Homo sapiens: one gene and its partner. The protein of the gene in region 1 interacts with the protein of each later gene in a pairwise test. Each region holds a gene or a part of one and is shown on either strand. Other genes may lie near its edges. The genes, in order: BAZ1B and SMARCA5.

Region 1 (3,923 bases):
CATCCTCTTACAGACCCTCCTACAAGATGAGATAGCAGAAGACTATGGTGAATTGGGAATGAAGCTGTCGGAAATCCCCTTGACTCTGCATTCTGTTTCAGAGCTGGTGCGGCTCTGCTTGCGCAGATCTGATGTTCAGGAGGAAAGCGAGGGCTCAGACACAGATGACAATAAAGATTCAGCTGCATTTGAGGATAATGAGGTACAAGATGAGTTCCTAGAAAAGCTGGAGACCTCTGAATTTTTTGAGCTGACGTCAGAGGAGAAGCTACAGATCTTGACAGCACTGTGCCACCGGATCCTCATGACATACTCAGTGCAAGACCACATGGAGACCAGACAGCAGATGTCTGCAGAGTTGTGGAAGGAACGGCTTGCTGTGTTGAAGGAAGAAAATGATAAGAAGAGAGCAGAGAAACAGAAACGGAAAGAAATGGAAGCCAAAAATAAAGAAAATGGAAAAGTTGAGAATGGGTTAGGCAAAACTGATAGGAAAAAAGAAATTGTGAAGTTTGAGCCCCAAGTAGATACAGAAGCTGAAGACATGATTAGTGCTGTGAAGAGCAGAAGGTTGCTTGCCATTCAAGCTAAGAAGGAACGGGAAATCCAGGAAAGAGAAATGAAAGGTAAAATTTCATGCTGAGAGAAAAGGGGAAGCTCTGTAGAAGATAGTAAAAGAAAGGAAATTACTGAGGTAATGGTAGGGTCTCTGTTTGTTTACTTATTTCTGTATGTAATAACCCAGCACCTATTGGTATGTATTTTATTTTTTATTAGTTCTGTTGATAATTTCATATTTCAGCTGGAGTGTTCAGCCTGGCATTCTGATTAGTTAATAAGTTAATGTGATGTTGGCATCTTTTCTGGGTTCAGTAAAGGACCAAATCTACAAATAGAAATAGTGGAAACAACATAGGACTTGGGAGTTGACTGACCTGGGTTCAGGTTCTAGCTCTGACTTAGCTGTACAGTGTTCCTTTGGGCAGATTACTTATCCGTGCCTCACTTTCCTCATATGCTTGATAAGATTGTTGTAAAATTGATTGACAAGGTATTTGAAGCCCCTAGCACGGTCACCAACTCAGATAGTAATCTGTCCTTTAAGATTTAAGAACTTAAAAATTTTGGGCTTTGATGGCTCCATCGAATCTGAACTTTTAAAAAGCAGCTTTATTAAGAAATAATCGACATACAGTATAATTAGTTCACTTATTGTGTATAATTTAGTGTTTTCAGTAGAGTCACAGATAATGTACAACCATTGCCAATTTTGTAACATTTTTATCATCTCAAAGAAACCTGCTACCCATGAACTGTCATTACCCCATTCGCCCATCCTCCCCAGCCCTGAGCAACCACTAGTCTACTTTGTCTCTATAGATTTGCTATTCTAGGCATTTTCTCTAAATGGAATTGTATAATAAATAGTCTGTTGTGACTTTCACTTAGCATAATGTTTTACATGCTACAACATGAATGAATCTTGAAAACATTATGCTAAGTGAAAGAAGCCAGTCACAAAATAGACCACCTCTATTTAGTTCTAAAACATTTTTTTTTTTTTTTTTTTGAGATGGAGTCTCGCTCTGTCACCCAGGCTAGAGTGCAATGGTTTGATCTTGGCTCACTGCAACCTCCGCCTTCTGGATTCAAGCGATTCTCCTGCCTCAGCCTCCCGAGTAGCTGGGATTACAGGCATGCGCCATCATGCCTGGCCAATTTTTGTGTTTTTGTAGAGATGGGGTTTCACCGTGTTGGCCAGGCTGGTTTCGAACTCCTGATCCACCCGCCTCAGTCTCCCAAAGTGCTGGGATTACAGGCGTGAGCCACTGTGCCCGGCCAGCCACCATGCCGGGCCAGCCACCATGCCTGGCCCCAAAACATTTTTAAAAGAAAACCCAAAAGTCACTCACTCTTCTCCCTTGTCCACATCCCCCAGCAACCACCAATCTGTTCTCTGCATCTATGGATTTACCTATTCTGGATATTTCATGTAAATGCAATCATATAATATGTAGCCTTTTTATGGCTGGCTTTTTTCACTTAGCATGTTCTCCAGGTTCATCCATGTTGTAGCATGTGTTAGTACTTCATTCCCTTTTATGGCTGGATAATATTCCATTGTTTGGATATACCACGTTTTGTTTCTCATTCATCACTTGATAAACATTTAGATTGTTTTCATCTTTTACCTATTATGAACAATGCTGCCATAAATATTCATGTATGAGTTTTTGAGTAGTCATATACTTAAATTTCTTTAGAGTAAATACCTCGGAATAAGATTGTTGGGTCATATGATTATGTTTAACCATCTGAGAAACTGCCAGACTGTTTTCCAAAGTGGCTGCACAATTTTACATGCCCACCAGCAGTGAATTAAAGGTTCTGACTTTTCTCCTTCCTCATCAATACTTGTTATTTTCTGACTTTTTGATGATAGTCATACTAGTGGGTGTGAAATGGTATCTCATTGTGGTTTTGATTTGCATTTCTTTGATGGCTAATGATGTTGAACCATCTTTTCATGTGTCTCCTGGCCACCTGTGTATCTTTGGCGAAGTATTCAGATCATTTGCCCATTATTAAATTGAGTTATCTGATTATTATTGAGTTGTAAGAGTTCTGTATATATTCTAGATACAATTCTCTGTCTGATACCTGGTCTACAAATATTTTCATCTATTTTGCGTGTTGTCCTTTTACTTTTTTTGGGGGAGACGGAGTTGCGCTCTTTTTTGTGCCCAGGCTAGTGCAGTGGCGTGATCTCAGCTCCCTGAAACCTCTGCCTCCTGGGTTCAAGTGATTCTCTTGCCTCAGCCTCCCGAGTAGCTGGGATTACAGGCGTGTGCCACCACACCTGGCTAATTTTATATTTTTAGTAGAGGTGGGTTTTCACCATGTTGACCAGGCAAGGTCTCGAACTCCTGACCTCAGGTGATCCGCACGCCTTGGCCTCCCAGAGTGCTGGGATTACAGCTGTGAGCCACTGCACCTGGCCTGTCCTTTCACTTTCTTAGTAGTATCATTTGAAGCACAAAAGTTTTTTAAATTTGATGAGGTTCATTTTATCTATTTATTCTTTTGTTACTTATAGATTTGGTGTTAGATTTAAGGATCTTTTGCCAAATCCAGGGTCATGAAGATTTACTCCTGTTTTCTTCCAAATGTCTTAATAGTTTTGCCTCTGAAATTTAGGTCTTTTATTTTCAGCTAATTTTTATAGTGTAAGGTAAAAGTCCAGCTTTATTTTTTTTTGCATGTGGCTCTCCAGTTGTCCTAGTGCCGTTTTTTGAAATGACAAACCTTTCCCCATTGAATGGCCTTGATACGCTTGTCAAAAATCATATGACTGTAGGATACGTTGGCTTATTTCTGGACTCTGAATTCTATTTCACTGATCTGTATGTCTGTCTTTATGTAAAAGCCACACTGTCTTGATAACTTTGCTTTGTAGTAAGTTTCGGAATAGGGAAGTGTTGATCTTCCAGCTTGTTCTTTTTCAACATTTTCTTTTTTATTTTATTTTGAGACAAGGTCTCATTCTGTCACCCAAGCTGGAGTGCAGCAGTGTGATCTCAGCTCACTGCAGCCTTGACCTCTTGGGCTCAAGTGGTCCTCCCACTTCGGCCTCCCGAGCAGCTGGGACTTACAGGCATGTGTCAGCACGCCTGGCTAATCTTTTTATTATTTGTGGAGGCTGGTATTGAACCCCTAAACTCAAGCAATCTTCCTGCTTCAGCCTCCTAAAGTGCTGGGATTACAGGCCTGAGCCACCAAACCCCGGCTTGAATAGTTCTTTCATTAGAAAATGTATATTCCTTTTAAAACAAATTTTAGTTTACACTACTTAAGGCCATTGAAATATTTTTGCATATGTATGCATACTGTGCCTGAGTATACATATGTAATGTGTACTTTCC
Region 2 (3,923 bases), on another chromosome or scaffold:
TCGGGAAATTCTTAGGAGGCAGGTTTAGACAAAAAAGAGGGAGGTTTTAACATAAAGAAAGGAAGAGGGTGGAAAGATAGTTAGCAGTAGTAGGCATCTGCATTCCTTTCAGGTTTATAAATGTATTAACACATTCCTAATAGTATTATTTTAAAGGTAAGGAAACTGAAGCAAAGACTGGTTAAGTAATTACCACTCTTTGGGCTCCCAAACAAACAAACAAAAATTGATAACTTAAAATATCCAACATAACTAGAAAGGGAGAGAAAAATATAGACTTATCACTCACAGGTAAATGAAGAGGAAATAAAAAACAAGTACACAGCTATTCAGTAGAGTCTGAATAAATTTCCAAATCTGAGCTTTATATACTAATGTCATTATTTCCATCTCTTCTTCCCACAAGGATGTTGTCAACTGATCGAAATTTTAACTTATTTTGTTAAATATCATAATAAATCACCAAATTACTATATATGACTCAACCCGTCTTTAAAAACTCTAATTCTGTGACTATTACCACTACACACATTCATCTAAAAATGTGGCTCCTTAAATTTCCAACCAACTCACATTTCAAAATATCTTTTAAAAACAAGAAAATAACTTCTAATGAGAGCACAACCAATGATTTTATACAACCACTCCCAAAAGGGAGAGAAACAAACTACAGTCTTACAGCTTTCTACCATTTCTAATGTCTTCTTCCCAGTATGATTTTTTTTTTTTAAGATGGTCTTGCTTTGTTGCCCAGGCTGGAGTGCAGTGGCGCCATCTCGGCTCACTGCAACCTCCACCTCCCAGATTCCAGCGATTCTCCTGCCTCAGCCTACCAAGTAGCTGGGACTACAGGCCATGCGTGCCACCACACCCAGCTAATTTTTTGAGTTTTTAGTAGAAACGGGGTTTCACTGTGTTAGCCAGGATGGTCTCGATCTCCTGACCTCATGATCCACCCGCCTCGGCCTCCCAAAGTGCTGTTTTTTATCCACCAAGACAATGCTACATTTGTAAATACTAATATTTGCGAAGATCCCGTCTCATTTATCCTTCTTCCAGCTATACCCATACCCAAGCCTGAATTCAAATTATTTTAGCCTCAAAAATGTAATGAAATACTAGAAACTTACTCTTTGTTCTTTATCTCCTATCAAACAAACAGATCTAAGTGTTGGTACCCATCTCTTGAATTCACTCATCCAGTTGTGTAATGTAGACTTAGGAACCAAAACCATATGAGGCCCAGGAATGTTTCTATAATGTTTCATGTACCCAAGAAGAGAAATTGTTTGAAGAGTCTTTCCTAGGCCCTGAAAGATTTCAAAATAACCATGAAGCAGTGAAAAATGAAAATATTATTTCACAATTATACCTCCCAACATATAGAAATGTTCAAAAGAAATGCTACATATTTATAACAGTTAATAAATGGCAAAAACTTAACATATATCAAAGTTTGTAAGTGTTATGTCATATAATTTTCACAAGTCTCTAAAGGAGGTATTATTATCACCCGCATAAGGCCCCGTTTAAGTGACATTCCCAAAGTCATCTAGCAGAGCTAGCATTGAAACACATTTCTTTTGACTTCATACTTTCTCCAACCAATTAAACGTTTTAGCATTATAGCAATAAGGAAACTTTTTTAAACATTCATTACATAACTAGTAGTTAACAAAAGATAAATGTTTTCTAAGAATTGTACAAGCTACCACCTGGAAAAAACATTTATCAATTATAAACAATTAATGACCTCACTTTTGTTTTACAAAACTGGAAGCAAATAAATCATTGTACTATAAAAGTCATCCAAAAACATGTTTCTCAAATGTATTCTTTTTAAATTTATCATATTTTCAGCGATGGAAATTTCTCACAATTAAAATACAGATCACACTTATGCAACTAAGGCAAGCTGCTTATACTAGTTTCTGAGAGGATCCATTTGCTAACAGTTGTAGACTGTAAGAAACTTTTATCAACGTATAAGATATTTTCAATACAAAACATACCCTTCAAAAAAAACTACCAACACATACCATTTCATCTGCAAGGATACCATTGATGCCATTCTCATACAAAGAAATGAGCCAGTTTAATCCTCGGACCTGATAATCTCTCAGTTTACCCCATTTTACATCTAAGAACAAAAGAAAAGCACAATAGGCATTTTAAGACAAGAAATACAAGGCAATCTCTTCATCTAAGCCTACACATATCTACTGACTTTATTTTCATTACTAACGGATTCTTGAATAGGAACTCTGCAAGTTCCAAAATACTAGAGGTAGCTGCCATGGTCTGAAGTGGAAAAGCTGGACATGGAAGATAATCAAGTGCGGGAAACATGACTGCGGGCATCAGAGTACCCACTCCAACAACTCAGTTCTTACGTTACCCATATACTGGTCTGAGAGACTCTTTGGCCTCTCGTCTTTTTAATGAAAAACCAAGTGTTCCTAACCAAGTATTTTCAGCTTTCATAAAGACCAGATACAGGTTATCTGGGGATTTTATTTTCTTTCTAGTAAAAAAAAAAAAAAAAGAAATAGGAAATTCCTAAGTTACTTGTCCAATATATCTTATACATTCCAATGCACTCTCTTTCAGGGTATACTACTTATTTTGCTCCCCAGAATAATTACCAAATATACATAACGGTCACCTGATTTTTCTTTTTTAATATGTACACAGTGTAGCCCTCCATCTCCTTTTGAAAAACACTTGAGGATAAAAAGCTAACCAATAAACAAATACATTTCACAAAAAATTAAATTAATATAAAAACATCAGAAGTAAGCAAATGTGTTCATGAAGTACCTTTTTTAAAATAAATTAGTTTTCTTATGTGGGACAAATATAAAGCAAAACGATCCTTAGATTTACATATACTTCAGGGCAATAACAAACACAATGACATTTTATATAACTTTGAAATACAGCACTACTATCCTGTAATATGCTCTCATCTCCATCAAAATCTGAAGTTTATTTCATAACCAATAAACATCTAAGACTACTAAAAATTTGCTTCACAAATAGTAGCCAACACAAATCCAAAACATTAACCAAAGGAGATCTCAAAGGGCAATTTTTTAAAAAAATCAAGTGTGTTTAACATACACGATGGAGAGTCTTCAAATCGAGTGCAAACATTGGTTGCTTTGGAGCTTTCTGTTAATAGCTCTTCATCCTCCTCTTGCTCTGTTCTACGGTGTCGGTAACTGTTAAGATGAAAATAAAATAACCTGATTTGAGTTTTGGCTTTAATTATCAGCTACTGTTTAAACATCATAGTCAAGTGGCTGACCAAGATTCCACAAAATTAAATTTTTAACAGGCATCAACCAGTGGACAGTAGAAAATATGAGTACATTTAAATCTGCAATGTTTTAAATAATTATTTAAAATATACATTAGTTATTAAAATACACCAGTACGATACATTAACCAGAACCCAATAAACTCAAATATGATAGTCAAATTTCAAGAACTATGTAGTCAGAAAATCTCATTATTTGAATTTTAAAGTGTACCTTTTTAAAAATCTTTTTGCCAAGGAAAAAAAAGTTCCAGAAACCACATGTTTAAAATTGTAACTTCGAGCAAAAGCTGCAGCATAAGGACTCAGAAATTTAAGCAGTGACCACGGATTCATCAAAAAAATTTTTAAATACACATCTAAATTCTACATCCTAAGAGAATCAGATATACTACCCCCTTAAAAACTGATTTTCTAAAGTTTTAATACTGCCAATTAATCTCTAAAGGGCTTGGTTCAGTAAAACTATTAATACTTACTCCCCAATTCTGACACTTTCAACAAATATTTTCATCTTATTTAGAAAAAGGCACGTTATGCCTCTGTTGAGACCGCTGAATCTAATTTGTAACTTCATTTCTACCAAAACCACATGCTTGCT

What was found.
Region 2: the proteins of BAZ1B (region 1) and SMARCA5 interact in binary tests that used the Homo sapiens proteins (3 or more experiments, as listed by UniProt).

The regions. Positions count from the first base shown.
Region 1 is NC_000007.14:73,473,571-73,477,493, reverse strand, and holds part of BAZ1B (tyrosine-protein kinase BAZ1B), read left to right. Parts: coding exon 1-626; intron 627-3,923. UniProt on the Homo sapiens protein: Atypical tyrosine-protein kinase that plays a central role in chromatin remodeling and acts as a transcription regulator. Involved in DNA damage response by phosphorylating 'Tyr-142' of histone H2AX (H2AXY142ph).
Region 2 is NC_000004.12:143,523,668-143,527,590, reverse strand, and holds part of SMARCA5 (SWI/SNF-related matrix-associated actin-dependent regulator of chromatin subfamily A member 5), read right to left. Parts: intron 3,225-3,923; coding exon 3,124-3,224; intron 2,141-3,123; coding exon 2,040-2,140; intron 1,311-2,039; coding exon 1,131-1,310; intron 1-1,130. UniProt on the Homo sapiens protein: ATPase that possesses intrinsic ATP-dependent nucleosome-remodeling activity.